2 separate regions of the Homo sapiens genome follow, and region 1 is linked to region 2. The links come from fine-mapping of genetic effects on plasma protein levels. A gene starts in region 2. The other region holds a variant in brackets. All regions are shown on one strand. Distances are from middle to middle. Region 1 overlaps SELP (selectin P). Region 2 holds the start of SELP (selectin P).

Evidence for each region. PIP is the chance, under the fine-mapping model, that this variant and not a neighbour inherited with it causes the effect. Sun 2018 read protein levels with aptamers (SomaScan).
Region 1: its variant is fine-mapped to the plasma level of the SELP protein (Sun 2018, PIP 0.95). The variant lies in the coding sequence of SELP. If it changes the protein, the assay may bind it differently, which can mimic a change of level.

What each region holds. Positions count from the first base shown.
Region 1 is chr1:169,586,547-169,594,510 of GRCh38, reverse strand. It overlaps SELP (selectin P), which reads left to right. Exons shown (of 17, transcript NM_003005.4): 14 at 787-906; 15 at 3,055-3,085; 16 at 4,309-4,364; 17 at 5,050-5,662. The coding sequence ends at 4,363. Among named protein-coding and RNA genes, the nearest start is that of F5, 4.0 kb to the right of the region's middle. RefSeq lists an enhancer at 7,555-7,964. The variant G/A (reference allele first, on the strand shown) is at 845.
Region 2 is chr1:169,621,102-169,637,555 of GRCh38, reverse strand. SELP (selectin P) reads left to right here and starts at 7,432. Exons shown (of 17, transcript NM_003005.4): 1 at 7,432-7,484. The coding sequence starts at 7,482.

The DNA.
Region 1 (7,964 bases), 39 kb after region 2:
CCCAGTGACTGTGTAGGTAATCACCCCTCCTCTTCAGTGTTCAGTTTGTGAAATGAAACCTTTTGCTTCGTTATAATCTCTGTTTAACAGACCTTGAAGTTTCAAAATGTTTTAAACTGGGAGTTATTTCATGCAGATTTCTAATTTATTATCTCAGAAGACCTTTGCTTACCACCTAACTCTAAAAACCTCCTAGCAGATCTTCCTTAATTAAATTCCATCTGTTTGCAAGGTATATTTCAGCCCCCTATTTTTTCCCCTCATAGCTTGTCCTGACTGCCTTTTGTTACATAACTGAATCTTTGCCAAAAAATTATGCACAGTTTATTTTATTTGCCTAAACTTACATGTATAGGCTTCTTATGTCTACAATTTAATTTCTTTTATTGGGACCTTACCCTAATTCTTTTGGAAATTACAGTTTATATTTAAGTCTTAGGAATAAATTAAGGCCCCACTTTTATTTTATTTGCCCATACTTACATGTATAGGCTTCTTGTGTCTACAATTTAATTTCTTTTATTGGGTCCTCACCCTGATTCCTTTGGAAATTACAGTCTATATTTAAGCCTTAGGAATAAAATAAGGCCCCACTTCCCATTCTGTTGCAGTGGATTTATGAATTCCAGATCTTCTTTCATGTTAGCTTGTCAGCATTCCCAGGACCTTTGGTGATCCTACTTGATCGCACATCTTAGAGTTCTTGAAAACTTTCTGGGAGAGAAAGACTAGTCTTTTGCATAATACACTTCTTATGTCTTGCATGTGTGTGTGTTTGTTTTGTAGCAGGACCATTGACTATCCAGGAAGCCCTGACTTACTTTGGTGGAGCGGTGGCTTCTAC[G/A]ATAGGTCTGATAATGGGTGGGACGCTCCTGGCTTTGCTAAGAAAGCGTTTCAGACAAAAAGGTAAATAGGAAAGAGTCTTCTCTTTGCATCTTGGTTACATAAATCAAAAGAAATTGATTTATGTAATTTAGGGTGGGGAGGCAAAAACCACAACTTCAGTAGTTCATGTTGGAAAACATTTGCATTAAAAGAAAATAAAGCCAAGATAAGTGATCTTGAGAACTGATTGTCCATTAGAATCACCTAGGGAACTTCCTAAAAATATAGATCCTTCTATGGGGAGACTTGGTAGTGGGTGTGGAAATCTGAATTTTTCAAAAGCTCTCTCCCAAAATTCAAATGAGGCTACTTTGCAGTTTTGCATTTGGGGCCTCTGGTCTAAGTACCCTAGGCTATCACTAAAGCTAATTAGAAAGGTGTTATGCTTCCTGACTTCACTCATTTCTTCATGTAGCAGTCATTTATTCATCAACTCTGTTAGAGTGTGAGACTCATAATGATGGTTTCTGATATTAAGGAAGGAAAAATCCAGTAGGGGAGACAGGTGAAATCAGTGCCGGTAGTGAAGTGTAGTAAGTGTGTTAGGACACAAATACAACCTAGGTATTATTAGAACATAGACTAGGGATGCCTAAACCAGACTGGCAGGTCAGAAAGCCTTTTTCAAGCTTAGCTTTGAAGAATGAGAGGCATTTAGCCAAGGGGAAAATGGAAATAGAGTTCCATCAGAGAAAATGGCATGTAGAAAGACATGAAAGTGTAAAATCAATGAGAAGATGGTATGTTTCGCAGTTCAGTGCATCTGAATCAAAAGGGGATTATGGAGGAGGCAGGAGATGAAGTTAGGGGCAGAAGAAGCTGCCCCTGTATTGGTGACCTGGTGTGATAAGCTAAGAGATTTGCTTTTTCTCCTGAAAATTTGTAAAGTTGATGCAGGATTTAAACAGAGAAGACCAAATAGATGAAAACTCTCTGTAAGGGAAACTGTGTTCATCAGACTGTTCATCAGAAAAAGAACTTTAGTCTAGGAATTAAAGATGGGAACATCCCATCTCTTAAGGTTTAAAACATCCTTTCTCAATCTTCTCCAGACACTTAGCCTGCCTATAAGTTCATAAAGTTTTGTTTATAACCTAATGGGGCTCTTCTTCATCACTCCTCATAGAAAGTAACTGGGGGCATCAGAGAGACCATTAATTGCTCAAATCAAGGTAATGGAAAGTGGCTATGTTAAAATATCTGAAAGAGATCTCATTGAATTTCTCTATTGTTGACATAGGTCTCAACACCTATTCTTAACTGCTCAGAGGCAAAACCACGTGTTCCTTACTCTTATTCTTTCTCCATTTACAATGCTACCAAAACATTGAGGCTGTTTTTCCAAATTTCCTTCATATACTCTCCTGTGAGTGGCTAAGACAATAGACAAAGGTCAATACTCTGCTTCAATACCAAAGAGATGTACTGAGAGCTACAGTGAATCCCTCCATGCAAAATGTGTGCTTGCTCAACCAAACCCAGAAGGCAGAGGCAAGAGCTCCTAGACCTTAATCTCTATGATCATGTAGGAATCACTCTAATCTTGATGTTTCCCCCAAGTCCTTTCTTTGACTTTGAGACATTTCCAGAGGACCCTCTAACAGTGGAGAAGGACAAATGGCCACTCATGCCCCAATATTTTTAATAATAAATACATTCATTTGTTGGGGATGGGAGCTTTTTTCCTCAGCTTCTCCCAATTTGATTTTAGGCTTTGAAGTTTTCTATGGCCAAATAAGAGGAAAATGCTGCAGCCATAGCTGAAAATTCAACTATGAGAGTCTGTTATTTGGATAAAAATATGCTACCAGGGAGGAAAAACATCCACTGTTCTGTTGGTTTGGATTCATGTATGTGATTAGCTTGCTCAGCTAAGGGCTGAGGGCAAGTGACACAAGATGCCCTCAAAAGAAATTGATTTATGTATTTACTGAAAGGAAGGAGGAAGAAAGTGACAGGACTCTGGAGTTAAATATTGTCGAATGTTTAATTTAGCCTAAAACACTTTCTACCTTTCAGGGAGAAACTGTTCCCAATATTCCCCTTATAATGAGCCCTCCTGAAAATCAGTCTACTGGTTTTCCCCAGTAATTTCTATCCTTAATGACCCTCTCTTTCATCTTGTTTTTTTTTTTTAATCATTCATTCTTGTCTTCTTGCTGATTTTAGATGATGGGAAATGCCCCTTGAATCCTCACAGGTAAGGTAGAAATGTTTTATGATTGAGTAAATTTTGCTACCTTAACTTTATAATTCACTGTAATATGTCAGAATGATTACATGCAATGCCTGCCTCCTTTTTACAATGTCTTTTGCAATGTCTTCTTTTCTACTCTGAAGTAAAATACACAGATAACAAATATTCTAATTAAAATATAAAGTAGGAATAAAATGAAAAGTAATTTATAATAAAAACAAGATGCAAAAACTTAGGCGCTGTGCCAGTAGATGCAATGAGGTCATCAGAAGCGTGCACCTTCCACAGAATCACTAGGAAAGCAACGCCCACGCAGGTGGACTGATGGGGGAATGTTGTATTAGTGACTCAAAGAGCATTAGAACTGTGGCCAACACCAGCCTAATTTTTCAACATGGTGAACAACTCCGGTAAAGAGTCTGAAAACCTGTGATAATTGTCCTTTGATTCATATGGCAATTGCATTTTAAAGATGCAAAAAAATGCTTAATATTTACATGTAAAGTGCTTGAGTTCCAGGCTCAGAGATTTTTAACCTGTATGAATATCGAGCAGATATTCCAAAGTTATGTGGGATGTTGGACAATTCTTTTGTGTCCTGTACCCCTTGCTATTTATAATCTAGCAATAGTTTTCAAAAAGGGACAGTATGCCCCCAAGGGTATTTTTTTATTTTTGTAATGAACAAGAGTTCTACTGACATTGAGTGGGCAGGAGGCAGGGGTGCTGGATATCTTTTAAAGACATTTCCGTCCTGGAGGACATGGAAATCCTTATATGAACTCTATTGTCGTAGACATCCAGCACCCTTGCCCCATACCCACTCAATATCGGAAGAACTCTTGGTTATAAAAATCAAAAAACACCCCTAGGGGTCATATTGCACCCTTTGAAAACTATCGTTAGATTATCAAGTGTTAATGCCAAGAATTTTGTAACTACCTCTTGTCACCTAGAAGAGGTTGCAGCAACTTAGAGGGTATAACAGGTATTCAGTACATAAAGCATGAACAATAACTTAGTGTGGGTGCAAAATGCAATGCAAATTACCCAGAGCTGGTAAGTGGGATATCGAATATTTCTTTGGCATTTATTTTTCTTTCCTTTCTAAAGCAGAATTCCAAGGGTGGATGGTAATTTGTGGTTTCTGGAAATACTATGTGTTGGACTGTGTTGTCGAGAACTAAGCAGTATATTGTTGCCATCCTTGTGTTTCTGTTCTTTAGCCACCTAGGAACATATGGAGTTTTTACAAACGCTGCATTTGACCCGAGTCCTTAAGGTAAGATCCCTATAAAGATATTTTTGAAGGAAATAGAACACTAGGGAAAAATGGAAGACTATAAAGCTTAACTTTTCTTTACATAATCATATATTAAATTTTAAGTATGTATTAAATTTTCAGGCATGAAGGAAATTGTGTTGGCAGTAGGACACAGGTATGACAATGGAGTTACAAAAGAGTTCACAAAAGGATTTTCATTTCCTCCAGGACAGAAATGTCCTAACAAGACATAACTTATTTCAGGATGTGTAACATTTCCATTATTAACTGCTAGGTGGTGATGATGTGGCCTTGCCTGCAAAGCAGAAGTCAGGACTGCTGAAAAATGTTTACGAACTGTTATGGAGTCAATTCCCTATGCTACCTGCTGGAAAAACAAAAATAATCTGATGCTATCCCTCTCCCAAAAAGTGGGTAGTTGAGTGTCCTACAAAAAGCCTGAATGGCAGAATATTCGAAATCTAGAAAGAAAAGATTATGCTGCGCCTCAGGGTGTAGATATGATGAGCAATTTTTTTCTTTCTTTTATTTTTTTAAGGAAATGATAATTATTTAAATTTCTTTGGTCTCATTTCCAGAGACCTGTCCTTTTCCTGGTCTCCTCATTCAGCCTCCATATGATCCTGTTGTGAACATCAAGTTTCCTGCTACACTGGACTTAACTATAATGCATTTGCTGCAGGTTTCCATAAACACCCATGAATCAAAGACATGGAATTACCTTAGATTAGCTCTGGACCAGCCTGTTGGACCCGCTCTGGACCAACCCTGTTTCCTGAGTTTGGGATTGTGGTACAATCTCAAATTCTCAACCTACCACCCCTTCCTGTCCCACCTCTTCTCTTCCTGTAACACAAGCCACAGAAGCCAGGAGCAAATGTTTCTGCAGTAGTCTCTGTGCTTTGACTCACCTGTTACTTGAAATACCAGTGAACCAAAGAGACTGGAGCATCTGACTCACAAGAAGACCAGACTGTGGAGAAATAAAAATACCTCTTTATTTTTTGATTGAAGGAAGGTTTTCTCCACTTTGTTGGAAAGCAGGTGGCATCTCTAATTGGAAGAAATTCCTGTAGCATCTTCTGGAGTCTCCAGTGGTTGCTGTTGATGAGGCCTCTTGGACCTCTGCTCTGAGGCTTCCAGAGAGTCCTCTGGATGGCACCAGAGGCTGCAGAAGGCCAAGAATCAAGCTAGAAGGCCACATGTCACCGTGGACCTTCCTGCCACCAGTCACTGTCCCTCAAATGACCCAAAGACCAATATTCAAATGCGTAATTAAAAGAATTTTCCCCAAATGCCGTGTTCCTCTATTTTATGGTTTGTTCAGTAAGGTCTGTATACATCACATTGTTTACCATCAGTGTAATAACACACAATTATGGTTGTCCTATTTACACCTCAACCATTCATTCAGTCAGCAAATATGTATCGCACACCCTACACTGCAAGAGAAAATCAGAGAAATGGAAAAATTCTTCATCACCTTAATATTTTACAGGGAAGAACAAATGTGTTTTACATGTTCTTTAAATCCCATGTTTAATAAATAGGTCATTGAAAGTTATATAGTATTTATCTGGAACTGATGTTAAAAAAAATAGAGAGCCAAAAATTATAGTAGTCATCTTGTCTCTGTAAAATGTAATTAAATAAATATGTCATGTACACTGTATATACATAAGCAAACATGCAAATAAAAAAGCAGCCTACTCAAAGGTTACAATAATGTTGCAACAATTCTGGTAGTAACCTTGGGATTTAGGGACACAGTGCTTTCAAAACGTTTCTCTGATACACTGCCAGTAGCATCTCTGACTGCTTATTTAAATGTCAATCAGTAGGCTAGGTGTTCTAGGACTTTGGTCTCAACCCTGTTTCCTGAGTCAGAATCTACATTTTGTAAAAGTTCCCCTGGGAATTCTGATGGTCTGCCAACTTTGGGAGACACTGATAATATTGTAGATAAAGAAGTGTAAGCAACTGTTCAGTTAGGGAGACAATAGATACCTGCATGGAATAACAAAAGGTAATTAACATGATTATATAATTTGAATAGTGTTGTAATAGTTCATAAAATGGAAAAGCCAATTTGAGCCCAGAATCTGGGAGATAGGCAGAACTCTGGACTGTAAAGAATGGCCCAGCAAAGAGGAAGAAAATGGGCATTCTAAGTTGGTGCAATAATATCAGCACAGGAGAAAAGACAGAATATTGGGGGGAGTGGGGAGGGAGGAAGAGGCTGTTGATGAGCCTGATATCATTAACAGAGACCTCATGTGAGGTGCCAGATTACAATTTATTGAATGTACTGAATGCATAAAGCATAAGACAGAAACCTGGAGCCATGCAGATACAGGGAACCCAGGACAAGTCATTATGATGCCTCAGACAATATAATTCGCAGATTCTCTATCAATAGCAAAGTAAGATTTAAGGTGCTGTGAAACAGTCAGATCCTTCAAGAAAAACAAGAATACAAGGGGTCCTGGAGACAGGAAAATATGATCATAATAATAAATTTGTGATTCCTTCTTTCTCTCTTTTTCTCTTTCTTTCTTTTTCTTTCTTTCTTTTTTTTTTTTGATGGAGTTTTGCTCTCGTTGCCCAGGCTGGAGTAAAATGGCATGATATCAGCTCACTGCAAACTCCACCTTCCAGGTTCAAGCAATTCTCTTGCCTCAATCTCTCGAGTAGGTGGGATTACAGGTGTCCACCACAACGCCCGGCTAATTTTTTATATTTTTAGTAGAGAAGGGTTTCACCATGTTGGCCAGGCTGGTCTTGAACTCCTGACCTCAGGTGATTCACCCGCCTTGGCCTCCCAAAGTACTGGGATTACAGGCGTGAGCCACTGCGCCTAGCCTCTGTGTGTTAAGTGCTGGAACTATAGTTTACAGTAGCATTTTATCCTCCCAACATACCCTATCAGGAAAAATTATTATTGTCATCCTTATTTCACAGATGTCAAAACTGAACAGAGAGGTACAGTAACTTGCCCAAGACAACACAGCTAGTAAGTGAAACTGAAATCTGGACAACTGATTTTTTTCAGCCAAGCTCTTCAAGCCCGCTGCTATGCTGCAGCTTAGCTGGCGACAGGCCCTTATCAAGGCAGAACTGTGCCTTGATAGAGGCCAGGAAGGCGATTCAGAGCAGTAGGCCTTGTCCATGTGTTTGTTCCCTGCTTCTTCACCACTTGAAAATAGTGTTTCAGTGCCCAGTAACAGGGCACAATACTCTTTTCCTCAGATTAAAAGGGGAGCCATCTGCTTAAGGTGGTTGGGTGCCACTGCACTGCACAGAAGGTTCTCCAAGTGTGAGCTTGGACCCAGGCAGGCCTCAGGTCAGTGGTAACGGACGACTGCTTCCGTGGTGTTGGCAGGTGGAAATGGAGGGATACAGCTTTGTCCGGCTCATGAATCCCTGGGCATTGTCCCGCCTGCTAGAGCCTCTGATCTCTGCCCCTTCTTCACCTGCAGTAAAACAGTCACTAGTTTGGTTGCTCTCCCTAATACCTCTGGTCACTGGGAGCTGTGATCTCACCAAACCCCTGCCAGGAAAAGCCCCAGAAAAAGCGGAGGGAGTGAGAGCCAGAGG
Region 2 (16,454 bases):
TGCACCCAGCCTTTCATCTTTTTTATAGTAGTCATTCTAACAGGTATGAGGTAATATCTCATTGTGGTTGTAATTTGCATTTCCCTGATGATTAGTCAAATATTTTAAATATACCTGTTGGCCATTTATATGTCTTATTTGGAGAAATGTCTATTCAGGTTCTTTGCCCATTTTTAAATTGAGTTATATGTGTGTGTGTGTGTGTGTACGCGAGTGTGTGTGTGCATTTTGCAATTGAGTTTCTTACATATTTTGCATATTAATCTTCTATCAGATACATGGTTTGTAAATATTTTCTTCAGCTCCATAGGTTGTCTCTTCACTCTGTCAATTGTTTCCTTTGCTTTGGAAAAAGCTTTTTAGTTTGAAGTTATCCCATTTGTTTATTTTTGCTTTTGTTGCCTGTGCTTTTGTGGTCATATACAAAGTCGTTGCCAAGATTAATGTCATGGAGCTTTTTTTTTTTTTTTTTTTTTGAGACGGAGTCTTGCTCTGTCGCCCAGGCTGGAGTGCAGTGGCGTGATCTCGGCTCACTGCAAGCTGTCATGGAGCTTTTTATGTGTGTTTTCTTCTAATCGTTTTATAGTTTCAGGACTTATATTTAAGTCTTTAATCCATTTTCCTTTGATTTATGTATGTGAGACAAGAATCCAATTTCAAGCTTCTTTATATAGATATCCAGTTTTCCCAATATCATTTATTAAAGAGACCCTCCTTTCACCATTGAATGTTCTTGGCATCTTTATCAAAAATCAATTGACTGTAAATGCATGAATCTATTCCTTATCTTTCTACTATGTTTCATTGGTCTAAGTATCTATTTTTATGCCAGTATGCTGTTTGAATTACTATAGCTTTGTAGTATATTTTGAAATCAGGCAGTGTGCTGCTTCTAGCTTTGTTCTTTTTGCTTAAGATTGCTTTGGCTATTCAGGATTTTTTTGTGGTTCTATATGAATTTCAAGATTGTTATTTTTTATTTCTCTGAAAAATGCCATTGAAATTTTGATAGGAATTACATTGAATCTGCAGACTGCTTTGGGTAGTATAGACATTTTAACAATATTAATTTTTCAAATTCATAAATATGGGATATCTTTCAATTCCTTTGTCTTCTTCAATTTGTTTCATGGTTTTCAGTATATAGATCTTTTATCTTTTTGGTTAAATTTATTCCTAAGTGTGTTTTTTTGTAGCTGGTATAATGAGATTATTTTCTTAATTTCTTTTTCAGATAGTTTGTTGTTAGTGTATGAGAAACACTGCTGATTTTTGCATGTTGATTTTGTATCCTGTAACTATACTAAATTCATTTATTAGTTCTAAAAGTTTTTTTTTATGAAGTCTTTAGGGTTTTCTACATATAAGATCATGTTTTAGGGTTTTCTATATATAAGATCATGTTGTCTGAAATCATAGACAAGTTCTTGTGATTTGGATGTCTTTTATTTCTTTCTCTTGCCCAATTACTCTGGCTTGGATTTCCAGTACTGTGCTGCATAGAAGTGGCAAAAGTGAATATCCTTGCCTTGCTCCTGATCTTACAGGAAAAGCTTTCAACCTTTCACTATTGACTATAATGTTAGCTGTGGGCTTATGTATATGGCCTTTATTTTGTTGAAGTTACTTTCTTTCCACACCTGAGGGTATTATTCCTTCCTATTGCCTGAGGGCACTATTCCTTCTTTACCAATTGTTATCATAAAATTATGGTAAAATTTGTCAAATGCTTTTTCTGCATATATTGAGATGATTATATGGCTTTTGTCCTTCATTCTGCTAATGTGTGTATCACATTTATAGATTTTCTTATGTTGAACCATCCTTGCATCCCAGGGGTAAATTACACATGATCATGGTGAATAATCCTTTTAATGTGATGTTGTTGCTTTGTAGTTACTGTGAGACTTAGATAAAACATATAATAGTTATAACAGGCTATTTTAAGCTGATAAAATTTAACTTCAAGGATAAAAAAACTCCACACTTTTACTCTCCCTCCACATTTTATAGGTTTTTAATATTTTTCAGACTTTATGCTTTTGATGTTATAATTTACATCTTTTATATTGTGTATCTGTTAACTTATTGTGGTTATAATTATTTTTAATAGTTTTGTCTTTTAACCTTCATTCTAAAGATATAAGTGATTTATACAGCACAATTATAATATTGGAAAATTCTGAATTTGACTGTATTTTTATTTTTACCTGTGACTTTTATACTTTCGTAGATTTTCATGTAATTAATTAACATCCCTTTCTTTCAGCTTGAAGAATTCCCTTTAACATTTCTTGTAAGGCAGGTCTCGTGTTGATGAACTACCTCAGCTTTTATTTGTTTGGGAAAGTCTTTATCTCTTCTTTATTTCTGAAGGATGGGACTCTTGGTTGGCAGTTTTTTCTCTTTCAACACTTTGAATATATCATCTCACTCTCTCTGGGCCTAGAAGCATTCTGCTGAGAAATCTTGTGATAGCCTTATTGCAATTCTTGTCTGTGATATGCTTCTTTTCTCTTGCTGATTTTAGGATCCTGTCTTTGTCTTTGATTTTTGATAGTTTGATTATTATGTCTTGGTGTAGTCTTTTTTGGATTGAACCTGACTGGAGATTTTTAAGCTTCCTGTACCTGAATATTAATATTTTATTTCAGATTTGGGAAATTTTCAGCTAGCAATCTTTAAATATGCTTTCTGACCCCCTTTTCCTCTATTTTCTCCTTCTTAAACTACTGTAATGTGAACATTAGCTCTCTTTTTTAATTTTTAATTTAATTTTTGTTTTTATTTTTTGAGATGCAGTCTCACTCTGTCACCCAGGCTGGAGTGCAGTGGCATGATCTCAGCTCACTGCAACCTTTGCCTTCTAGGTTGAAGAGATTCTGCTGCCTCAGTCTCCCCAGTAGCTGGGATTACAGGCATGTGCCACAATCCCTGGCTAATTTTTTTGTATTTTTAGTAGAGACTGGGTTTCACCATGTTGGTCAGGCTGGTCTTGACTCCTGACCTCAGGTGATCCACTCACCTTGGCCTCCCAAAGCGCTGGGATTATGGCATGAGCCACTGAGTCTGGCTGAATGTTAGCTCTCTTGATGCTGTCCCATAAATCTTGTAGGCTTTCATCATTTCTTTTCATTCTTTTTTCTCCTCTCACTGTATATTTTCAAAAACCTGTCTTCAGTTCACAGATTCTTTCTTCTGCTTGATCAAGTCTGCTACTGGTGATTTCTACTGCATTTCTCACTTCATTCATTATATTTTTCAGCTCCAATTTCTTTTATGATTTCAATCTTTCTGTTACATTTCTTATGTTGTGCATTTATTGTTTCTCTGATTTCACCAAATTGTTTCTCTGTGTTTGCTTCAAAGTAACTGAGCTTCTTTAAAAACAATTATCTTGAATCCATTGTCAGGCCATTTGTAGTACTCCATTTCTTTTGGGTCAGCTACTGGGAAATTATTGTGTTTCTTAGGTGGTGATATTTTAATTTGGGTTTTCATGTTTCTTGCTGCCTTACACTGCTGTCTGAGCATCTGGTGGATCTGCCCCAATTTCAGGCTGTATGGGCTGACTTTGGTGGAGAAATACCTTCTTATGTGGAATAATGCGAGGATGCTGGCTGGGTGGGATGCAAAAGTTCTGACTTCAGTAGGGGCAAAGCTGTGTGGTCTCCATGCAGATCTGTCAGCTGAGGTTGGTGTTAGTGAATACTACAGGGATCCTTAGAGGCCAACACTGTGGGTATCTACAGTGGCAATGAGGCTGTTGAGGTTTTCAATTGTGACAAGTCCTCCATATCTCTTTTTTTCCCCACCTGGGAAGTCATGACTGAGGACATCCCTCTTGGAATTAGGTCTAACTTGCAGGCCTGCTCCTGGTGGTGGTGACACTGGTGTCTGATGAACAGTGCCCATGGAGTGGCCAAGAGCCAAGGCCTGAAGCATGGGCATGCATGGAGGGACCACAGCACCAGATTCAATTGTAGCAATGGTACCAGTGCCCAAGGCACAGGCATACTTACTATCACATTGATAATGGTGTGTAAAATGCAGGTACTTATAAAGCAGCTAAGGAGCCAGGGACTTTACTGCATGCATACGCAGAGCTACAGTGGCTCCAGGATCCAGGGTGTGGGCTAGCTCTCCTTGGTGGCTGAGCTGGTGACTAGAGCATGGACAGGCACAGAGAAACCTTGACTCTAGGACCCAGGGTGTTCACTAGCTCACTATAGTGGTGGCTCTGGTGTTGGAGGTGTGGGTGTGTGTAGTACAGCCTCAGAGACAGGGTCTGGAGCGCAGGTGTGCACATTACTACAGCAGCTCTGGAGTTGAGAATATGGGTTACCTTTCTACAGTGGCTGAACTAGTGTCTGGAGCAAAGACTTTCACAGAGAGAACTTGGCTTGGGGTCCCAGGGTGAGATCTAGTTCACAACAGCAGTGACTCCAGTGTCTGAGACATGAGGAGGTGCACTGCAGCCACAGAGCCACAGTCCAGAGTGTGAATATCTGTAGAGCAGCCACAACTTTTGGGGATCAGGAACACACATAGACTTGTGAGAGGTGGTAACCCTGGCCCCAGTCCTGGGGCAGTGCAACAATAGCTGCTTCTTGGTGAGGGGGTGTGAGGGGTAGTGCAACTGTGTTTCCCTTTTTAGCATCCTGCTATGGGAATGGCTGTTGGATAAAAGATGCCAGTGTCCTCTGTGGAGCAGGACACTGGGGGCCTCAGTGGCTCTGTGTCACATGACTGACACAGATAGCCTACAAATTTCTTTATTCGTAGCTATCTCCTGGTGTCTCATATATGCCAGTCTCACCGGTGATTCTTCTACATGGATATTCTTTCTTTTCTCCATTGTGTTGTTCCAAATTCTTTAACAGGCTCTTGAGCCCCATCCCCCAACTCCCCACCCTTGTGAGGGCTATTTTGGTTTGTGTATAACTGTCTATGTTTGTTTTTTTGTTGGGGCATAAGGCTGACATCTCCTACTCCACCATCTTGCTAATGTCACCTGCATAGGAATCTTTTTATGCTTTCCTTATATTCACTAAAATTTAACAATATCAAACTTAAAAACATATGATCAATTGAACTTATTAATATCAAACTTATTATAAATAAGAAACTACCAGGCTGGGCATGGTGGCTCATGCCTGTAATCCCAACATTTTGGGAGGCTGAGGTGAAAGGATCACTTGAGCCCAGGAATTCAAGACCAGCCTGGGAAATATAGAGAGACCCTATCTCTAGAGATTTTTTTTTTTAATTAGCCAGTAGTGATGGCACACATCTATAGTCCCAGCTACTCAGGAGGCTGAGGTGGGAGAATTGCTTGAGCCCAGGAGGTCAAGGCTGGAGCAAGCAGTAATCATGCCACTGCACTCCAGCCTGGGCCGCAGAGTGAGACCCTGTCTCAAAAAAAGAACCTACTAGTCTACATACCACACTTCCTCATCCCCATCTGAGACTATATATATTTTTTCTAACATGAGGCAATGCCAAAAAGAGGGGCTGGTGAGTGAAAGTAAGAACAGAAAGACATGGAGGCAAGTCTTATAGAATAATAGCCAACACTTAAACTTACACTTAACAGCGTGATAGGTATTGTTCCAAACACATTAAATTCATTTAATGGTCCTTACATGTCTATGTATTTGGTGATTATTATCCTTATTATTCACATTGCTGAGTGTATTATTCTGTTCTCATGATGCTGATAGAGACATACCCGAGACTGGATAACTTATTAAAAAAAAAAAGGTTTAATGGACTCACAGTTCCACGTGGATGGGGAGTCCTCACAATCATGGTAGAAAGCAAAAGACACGTCTTACATGGCAGCAGGGAAGAGAGAGAAATGAGAACCAAACAAAAGGGGTTTCCCCTTATAAAACCATCAGCTCTCATGCGACTTATTCACTACCATGAGAACAGTATGGGGGAAACCACCCCCATGATTCAATGATCTACCAGGTGCCTCCCACAACCTGTGGGAATTATGGGAGCTACAATTCCAGATGAGATTTGGGTGGGGACACAGCCAAACCACATCACTGAGGAAACTGAGTTATAGGGAGATTAGTAACGCCCAACACAGCTGGTAGGTGGTGGAGCCAGGCAGTCTGACTCTAGGGTCTGGACTCTGAACTGCATCATGCTGCCAAGAAGTTCCTCATTTTTTCCTCTCTCTAAGTTTCCCTTATTCCCCTACAGTCATTCCTTCAACAGCATTTCCTTCACCATCTTTTCTACTTCTACTATATAATTAATTTTTTCTTCTTGGTCCCAAATTCCAACGTGCAAATGCAGCCTTATATACCCTAATTCATCTTTACCTTTAGACTTTCTTCCAATGTTTCTACTTCATTCCATTTTAAATTTATCCATGAGATGCCTATTTACAAGCTGTAACCATCATGAAGTGAATGAAGAATAATACCTACTACTGTACAATAGAATTCCAAGAGTATAAATAGGAGTTATGGCTTTCTGACTTGAAACTAAATACTTGATACTTGATTTTGCTGTCTGAGATCAATCTGAAAAGTAATAATAATCACTAACATTTGTTGAGCATCAATTGTGGGCCAAGTGTCATTTCAATCACTCTGTACATATTAACTCATTTCATCCTACAACAACCCGGTGAGGCAAGTTCTGTTATTCTGTTTTACAGTTGAGGAAACAGAGGCATAGAGAGCTTAAGTAGTTTGCCCAGTAGATAGCCAGAAGAGGAGCCAGGATGGGTCTCGGGCAGTTTAACAGCACAGCTGAAGTCTTAACCACTATGCCAACAGCTTTTTGGTCCTACACATCCCATGGGAAGAGGAAAATAAAAAGGTATCTATTTGTATACCTTTTTATTTCTGATATAAGAAGCAGAATTCCTTTCACATGACCTATGTCTATTTAATACGTCATTTTGAAACTTACCAATAAAATTTCCCAAGCGCCAGAAAACTGTTAGTGGCTTTTTCCATTTCTCTCTATTTTTTTTTGTGCTACTAATTTTGCTTCTTTCCCTCAGAAGGCTGCCGGAATAGTAAACATTCACTGACATGTCATAATTACTGGAAAATGGGCACTGGAAAATCACATTGTAATTAATTCAAAGCATGTTTTCCAAATGTACTACTTTAAATTGGAGCTTATATCATAATCCAAGGAAACCTTTGTGTGTGTACTGTTCCCACATTGCTCAGCCTGGGATATCCAGGAGTAATTCACCTTGCGCCTGCCTCCAGACCATCTTCCATGGAAGGGGGTGACCCCTTGCCTCTTGGCAACCACTATTTCTAAGCTGCCAACATTACTCTTGCATTATCAACATTCTAACTTCATGGGAAGGGCTGTGGTGAGTTTCTGGAATGTGAATAGGAAGTTGTTTTTCTAAACAGCCTGACACTGAGGGGAGGCAGTGAGACTGTAAGCAGTCTGGGTTGGGCAGAAGGCAGAAAACCAGCAGAGTCACAGAGGAGATGGTGAGTTTATTTTTTTCTGCATGGGAAGTGGTTGAAGTGAGTTGGAGTGGTATGGAGTAAAGTCAGGCAGGTAAAGGTTCAGAAAGTGAGGAACAGCGATAGCCATGGAGTTTTATGTTGAATTGCCTATTAGATTTTGTGAGTACTTTTAAACTTGCTGTCCACTTTGACCCTCCCAACACCCTTGTGAGTTGAGGTTGCTATTTCTATTTTACAAATAAAGCCATCGTGGTTTACAGAGGCTGTGTTTTATCTAAGCTTCACTGTTAGGCTACATGATGTTGGGATCTGGGGCCTGTCCTCTGGCTCCGCAGCTGCTGTTCCTCCTACTAGAATTTATAGGGGCTCTCTGAGAATAGATCATGGTAAACCTGTCACCCCATTTTCCAAGACTGTACTTCTCTCTGGGATAAATGATGGAATAAATGGAAGACTGGGTAGGTGCCCTGGGACAAGCTTACAATTGAATAGTTTCTCATCCCCATCCCTCCCATTTCTTTCTGTGAGCCTATGAATCTTCTGGGACTGATCTGGAATATCCACATAGTTTCCTTTTCTGCCCTAAGACTCAATCTTGTTAATGACTCAGTTTCTTCTTCTATAAAATGGATATAGTAATAATACTCTATAGTTTCATCATGAGGATTAAATAAGATTTTGCTGAAAAGCATCCAGATCTGAGCCTGACACATAGTAAGTGATTAGTAAATGTTAGCCATTATTGTTACAATAAAAAGAAAATTCTTAGGAATAGTGGGGTTTAGGATTCAGGGAAGATCCAAGGATAGCTAGGCATTTTGAACTCAGCAATGTTATATGCTCATGGATAAGATGCACGTGGTTAGGCTACTTCTAATTCAGGGAAGATCCAAGGATAGCTAGGCATTTTGAACTCAGCAATGTTATATGCACCTAGATAAAATGCACATGGTTAAGCTACTTCCAATTTTCCTCAGACTTTCCAAGAGTATCCCACATAGTCCCAGGGTCCGAAATCCTGCAGTCTGTGGCTATGGAGGAACCAGGCAGGTCTCTGTTTTTGAGCACCTTTCTGTGGGACTCCAGAAAAAAGTACCGCATACACCTGATTCATCCTACTGCTTTGCTTTACTATAGCACACTTTTCAAGTACTTATAATGTGGGTTTCTGTGTTGGGGAAAACAGGAATAAGAGTATGATAAAGAGAAGAGGAAGGAGTTTGAGCCTGTCTTAAGTTTGAACCACAATGACCTAAGGATATGAATTACTTTTGTCCTGTCTTTTTGCATGTCATACTTCTGAATTGGTTAACTTAAATGAGCAGTTATTCCTCTCTTCCTTCTACTCTCCTTGGCATCCTCCTCTATTTCAAAGGTATGAACTTATTGGATCAGAGAGTTCTTTGAGATTTTGATGAAAGTTACAACTTGTCTTTCCCAGATGAAAGCAAAAACATCGACATAAACACCAACCTTTAGAGACAACCACAGGAGGTTCCCAGACCTCCATGTGGATCCCAGGGTAAGAACCCTTCTCGATTGCCTCCTGGGCTTTATGTTCAGAAGCCCCTCTCTTGGTACCCTGAAATTAGGCTTGAGCTCTACAGCGAAGTGCTAAGGCCCCAGCCCTGGAATGGTTTTTAATATTTCAAAGACAAGACCTCTTCCTTTTCCTCTGAGCACATTTGGCCCCAAAGATTCAGAAACCTCAAACTGCCTGTGTAAATTTTGCTTCAAGTTCAGAGAGTGGCTTTAATTAACTTTTAGGACCTGAGAAAATGAGGATAAGGTTTTTCTGGTGGGGTATTTTCAATCAGATAGATCTCAGAGGAGTAGCTCTTGATTGGGAACTTATAGTTAAATTGCACTGATGTTTGTCAAAGTTTTAGCGGGCTATGGCCGGGCTCAGTGGCTCATGCCTGTAATCCCAGCACTTTGGGAGGCCGAGGCGCATAGATCACTTGAAGTCGAGAGTTCAAGAGCAGCCTGGCCAACATGGTGAAACACCATATTTACTAAACTTACAAAAACTGGCTGGGCATGTTGGCATGTGCCTGTAATCCCAGCTACTCAGGAGGCTGAGGCAGGACAAACTCTTGAACCCAGGAGGTGGAGGTGGCAGTGAGTTGAGATCACACCACTGAACTCCAGCCTGGGTGACAGAGCAAGACTTGTCTCAAAAACAAAACAAAAAAAAAGTTTTAGTGGGCTAAGGAGCAGGTCTGGATTTTCGTCCATTTATACCTTTTAACCACCTTATGTGGCTTCCAGTCCTTACTCTTCTTTTCATTACCTGTTTTTCAAAATGCAACTAAAATAGTTCAGACTCTCCTGGGCTAGCCACCAGCTCTTAGAATGTGCATCTTCAGAGATCTTTAAGTAGAAGCTTATTGATCAAATCCTCAAAAATCAAAATGACTTACTACATAAAAAACTGTGTTTAGAAAAAACCCTGGACCTAAACCTAGAGAGTAGGCACACAGTGGTTTTATAAATGACATTCATTATATTGTCTTCAAGGTGTCTAATCTTTTTGATTAAAAAGTAAATCAGAAACTTCATGAAGTCAAATACAGAGCAAATCCTCACTATTTGTAGAGATATAACTCATCTCTGATCCAATAGACTTTTTAAAAAATTTTAAGTGTCGTACTTTATTTTTAATGCTAATATTTTACTCAAAATAATGGCAATTGGTAGTCTAAATTAAATATATGCTTGGATTCTAAGTGTTGATGTCCTGGGTCCCTTCTTGTCTATATTCATAATTTGCTCTTTGGCTTAGAGACAACCTCTTTTCTCACTGTATTTCTTTTTCCACCCCTAAGCTGGGCTACCAATATCTGTGCCACACCACTAACACCACCACCGTCCAGAAACATAAGGGAACTAATGTATTAGCTGTAATAGCTTGTAACATCTGGGCTTTGCTACCAACAAGTTGTATAGTTCTGCATCCTCAACAACTCTCATATTCACCTCCCCTATTTGCATTCCCACTGATGCCAGACCAAACCTGTCCCTCTTTAACTCTCACTGGGACCATTGCAATAGCCTCTTCTTTTGCAGTGCAATCTCCCTGATTGTAACTCATTTAAAAAAAAAAAAGTATCGCACTACTCTCACCCCTATAATATCAGCATTTTTGGAGGCCAAAGAAAAAGTATTGCTTGAGCCCAGGGGCTCCAGGCCAGCCTGGGCAATATAGTGAGAACTTATCTCTACAAAAAATTAGCCGGGTGTGGTGATGCATGCCTGTAGTCCCAGTTACTCAGGAGGCTGAGATGGGAAGATCACTTGAGGCCAGGAGGTGGAGGTTTCAGTGAACCCAGATCATGCCACTGCACTTCAGCCTGGGCAACAGAGCAAGACCCTGTCCCCCAGCCCCACAAAAAAAATCATACCACCATTAAGTGCATGTGTTCATGATACTTCTCTGTTCAGAAGTATCCCTTCTGCCAACTGGTATTTGTGACCCACAAGATATGGTCTCAAACTACCTTTTCAGTTAACCTCTAGGATCTCCCAATCTTCAGCAGGCTGGAGTGCAGTAGTGCCATCTCAGCTCACTGCAACCTCTGTCTCCTGGGTTCAAGCGATTCTCCTGTCTCAGCCTTCTGAGTAGCTGGGATTACAGGCATGCGCCACCATGCCCAGCTAATTTTTGTATTTTTTAGTGGAGTTGGTTTCGCCATGTTGGCAAGGCTGGTCTTGAACTTCTGACCTCAAGGGATCTGCCTGCCTTGGCCTCATAAAGTGTTGGGATTACAGATGTGAGCCACCGTGCCCAGCTTCCGTTGGCTTATCATTGCACTTAGAATAAAATCTCATCCCCTTGTTTTGGATCCCAAAGCCCGATGTGATCTGTCACTACCCCCGGCTCGTATTTTTCTCTCCATTGCTCATTCCATTCTGGCCACACTAATGTCTTCATGTTCTTTGAACACACTGCAGTTTGCTTCCACCTTAAGGCCTTTGAAATAGCTTTTTCTTCTTCCTTTAATGCTCTTCTTCCTGCTTCTCACTGGCTGGTTTCTTGCAGTCATTCTTCTCTCCACTTAAACATTATCTCATTAAAGAGGTCTTCCCTGACGTTCCTGACCAACATAGTGACACAGTCATTCTATCACATAAGTTTCATTTCCTACCTAGCACTTATGGCTATATTCTGTTAATATTTTTCATGTTTACTTGTTTAGTACTGTTGTGTAGTTATTAGTATTTGTTTCATTGTCTTCTCTACCAATAGAATGTGCATTCTATGAGGACTGGAATTATGTCTGTTTTCACCATTTTATTTGTTCACTTAGCTATTATCACTACTGTAAAAGTAATGCATTCAGTTATAATTATTATGTATTTTTCCAACATTTTCTTATTTAGCATATTTTTGTCTTACTTTCAGTTATTCCTCTGCCATTATTCATTCATATATTTATCCATAAAATGTTTATTGAGTATTGAGTATGTGCCCTACCATGGCTGGGGATTCAGACCTGAGTAAGTAATAGTCCTTGCCCTTGAGAAGCCTCTGTCAGTAGCTTCCTCAGCTGTATGCTCACATGTTTGTTGCGCATTTAAATTGTGGACCTCCTGCTCAAGAGAATATTCAGAAACGGAGATGCTGATTAGAGGACATTGGAAACAGATGACCATAAGGAGGTCATCTTTACTTCCCAGGAAAGCAGAAGAATGAGAAGAGAATAGGGCCATGGAGGTGGGAACCTAGAGAAACACTTACCTCTGCAAGGGAAGGCAGAGGATTGAGGTAGATTCAGAAGAAGACTCAGAAAAGTTTCTCAAACATTAGAGCAGAAGAACAACAGAAGAGCTAAGGGAAGCATTTTAGGCAAAAGGAAGTAGTGGTATTTACTGCTACAGAAAGGTCAAGGAAGATAAGGGTGGAAAGTCTTCATTTGGTTTGGTAATGAGGATGTCAGCAATGAAGTTTGCAGGGACACTTTGATAGGATGGTCGGGCAGTGGGCTGGAGAGTAAGGGGGAGGCAAGGAAGTTAAGAAAGTTTAGCTATAAGAGGAAGGAGAGAAACAGGCAGATGTGGGCAGGAGGACAAAGGGTCAAGGGAGGGACATTGTTTGATTCCGCCTTTCTAAAAGCACAAAGCTGTGGTCTACAATGTAGACAAAAAGAACAAGATCTCCTTTCTGTGGCACTATTCTTGCCAACTTTGTAAGCCACCTGGAACGTGGCAAGCCATGGGACACCTACTAGCCTCTGGTACCTCCTTGTGTGAAAAGTTAGGTCAAGGCATTTGCTTCTTCCACTTTCTCTCTGCTTTTCTCTTCACCCTGCAATCATTATTAGTTTTTTTGCTTGTTTGTTTGTTTTGTTTTTTGAGAAAGAGTCTCACTCTGTTGCCAAGGCTGGAGTGTCTCGGCTCACTGCCACCTCTGCCTTCTGGGTTCAAGCGATTCTCCTGCCTCAGCCTCCCAAGTAGCTGGGACTACAGACATGTGCCACTATGCCTGGCTAATTTTTGCATTTTTAGTAGAGACGAGGTTTTACCATGTTGCCAGGCTGTTCTCGAACTCCTGACCTCAAGTGATCTGCCCACCTTGGCCTCCCAAAGTGCTGGGATTAGAGGCATGAGCCACTGCACCAGCCCAGTTCTTTATTAAAGTAAAATTAAAGATAATCATGGTACTTAATGAAGGCTTACACAGGCACAGGATGTTATTCTAATGACCCAGTCTCTGACTCCTTTCCAGCAACTTCCAGTTGAACCAGCCTTCCAGAGAACATTAAAGACTAGCAGAGCATGTGGATGCTTCTAGAGAGGAATTTCCTCTTGTTTTAGTATTTAACTTGCTTAGTAACACAGGACAGAGCAGCATCCTGCAGACTATAATGCAGAGTAGGAGCAGGTATGAGAAGGCCTGCCCACCCCAAGCAGGTTTCAGAGGAAAACTGTTACTCAAAGAAGATTTTTAAACATCATCCATTCTCCATACCTCCACACAAAATCCCTATCAGTTGCCTTACAGTTAACACAGAATCTTGAACTTGGGCCACATTAAACATGGACAGACTTAGTAGGTCATGAACCATCTGAGATTCTCTAAACTACTGCAAGCATGCATTTGTTTTGAAGAAATCTGACCACGGCTTTTATCAGATTTTCAAAATTCATAAGCCCTGGAAGAATAAGAATAACTGTGTTAACCCTATGCACATTCATGTGAGCAAGCTTGGGCAAATCATTTACGCTCACTGAGTCTCAGTGGTGGGGAGTGGTGGCTGCCCCATCTTAGGCATTCGAAGTCTGAAAGACTTCCTGCAGAACAGCAGATAAATGCTAAGTTGGCTTGGAAGTGACCTTTATGTTCTCCTATAGCTCTGAAATAACCTGTAAGAGGTGAATCTTGGTATTTGGTGATGCATAGAAACAGAAAAGTATGTCAGATTAAAGCAGGGGATGCACACTGACTTGCATTTTCCTTTCTTAGATGTTGTGCCTTCATCAAAAGCACTGTACCAGTCCTCTAAAACCTTCAAATGTTTAAAACAAGTTGTCTCGCTCTCTCTCACTTTGTTTTATCTTGTGTGGTAGAGAATTTGCTGATGAAATTTTGCTTAAAAAAAGTTCAAACAAACAAACAAACAGGTTAAAATGGGAAACATCTCTTTTTGGAAATTTTGTTTAAACCAAATCTTATTTAAAAGTTTAAACAAACAAGTCAAAGCAGGAAACAGTGGGTAGGGTTGGCCACTGTGATGGGAGACTGGGAGCCTCACCGACTCCTTCGCCCTACACACTCTTGTGAGCTGGCCCCAAAGCCAGGGAAATCCCTAGAAATACTCTGTTCAGGGAGAAAACCACTTCCACAGGAAGAGTACCACTAAATTTAAAATCGTTGCACTCCTTCTGCAATCTGTCTGAATAGAGCAAAGCCCAGGTTCAAAGGCAAGCACTCAGGTCCCCTTCATGAAGGCTGCAGAGTTGTGCTCTTCAGCAGCAATATTTTTGCTCCTATACCTCCAAAAATATCCTGGAACACTATGTTACCTCTTACACCTTTCTAAGTGGAAAGCTACAATTTTTTATCCCAAATTTTAAAAGCAAAAGAAGATTGGATTTTCCAGTGTATTACAAAAATTAGACTGTAAAAATAAAATTGTTACATAATTTCTTAAAGTTTATCCAATGGAATAAAGTACTAGCATGATCTGCAATCCTCATCACTTAAAAGACCACAAGCAGGCTCTTAAGAAATTTTATATTATTCATTTTTCTCTCCTTGAATAGTTATTTCTATCCCACTTCTACAGTATTTAGCCTAAGATTACACATTTTAAGCTTAAAGTATTTTCTTGATTATTATACTTCTTTGCAAAATAAAAATATAAAATTTCAATTTTCTACAACTGTAAGTCTCTATGTGTTAAAATGTTTTTCTTTTCTATTGAGTTAGCATGACAACTACTTTCAGTACACAATTAAATAAAGTAAATATACTGCAAGTTTTGACAAGTAACTTAAACCTTTATATTTAAATTGCTATTAAAGATTCATCTCTAAGACAGGAGGAGCTTTCCCTCATTTGTTCATATATCCATGAATGAATATTACTTATCAACAAAATTAGACAAGTTTGGCATCAATATTATTCCCATATTTCATTTTCAAGGATTTAAACATTGAGAAACTTCATTCATATGAATAAGTAAATGGAATTAGAAGTTTTATTATAGCAATGTCTCAATTCCTTGAAGTCCTTCCAAGTTATATGCCCCAAATTATATAGTGATTTACTATCAAAATTTAGTCAGACTTGACAACTTAATCGGGTGCTCCCTCAAAGCTGATGAAAGGAAATAAATGGAAATCACTAGACTTGAAAACGGATTTGCTGCAATATCATTTACAATATTCAAATTCTTAATACCTATACCAATATTTCGAATCATCTCTGGCATACGAATGTATTTATATCCAAAGGCAAAGCTCTGGAATAAATAAGAAATTAGTAAAAGGTATAATTTTTCTCTTATAAAGTGGGAGAAAGGTGTATTTTAGGCAGATTGTTTTTAAGAAAGTATATATGTGAAAGTTGAGAATCTGAATACAGATTTAATTAACACTCTCTTTGCTTGTGAACCCCTTGGGAAGTCAGCCTTATCCTGGTTTGAAGAATTCCACTTCAGCATTTGGAATGGTGCATTTTGAAATGTGATAGGAAGAACAGCTTGTGACACAACACAATTCAGAGAAAGCAGTGGGGTTAGGTTCGCACCAAAGGGTTATCGATCACTCTGCATTTTGTGCAAATAAACAGCTGTAAATCATAACGTTATGATACTCTCAGTGTTTAATCATAGGTCCTGCAGAGATCAGCAGCTTATAAGAACACAAAATATGCCTACTTACCAAAGTCAAGATTCAGAAGCTCCCAGATGAAAAGTTCTAGGCTTATGAGATAACTCTACTCTCTGGGACACATTAACTGGTTTGAGTTGAGTTCTCCCTGGTATCTGGTCAGGCTGTAGTCAAAAGTGCATGAACACATGCACACACATGACCCCACACTGTCCCATGCACCCTACTGGGCGTGACACATACACAACCCCACACTGTCCCATGCACCCTACATAATCCATCACTGGGCGTGACACACACACACACACACACACACACACACACACAACCTCACACTGTCCCATGCACCCTACATCATCCATCACTGGGTGTGACACACACATACACACAATCCCACACTGTCCCATGCACCCTACATCATCCATCACCAGGACATGATACATGAACACACACACAACACCACACAGTCCCATGCACCCTACATCATCCATCACTGGGGTGTGACACAAACACACACACACACAACTCCACACCATCCCATGCACCCTACATCATCCATCACTGGGGCATGACACACGAACACACACACAACCCCACACAGTCCCATGCACCCTACATCTCATCACTGGGGTGTGACACACACACACACACACA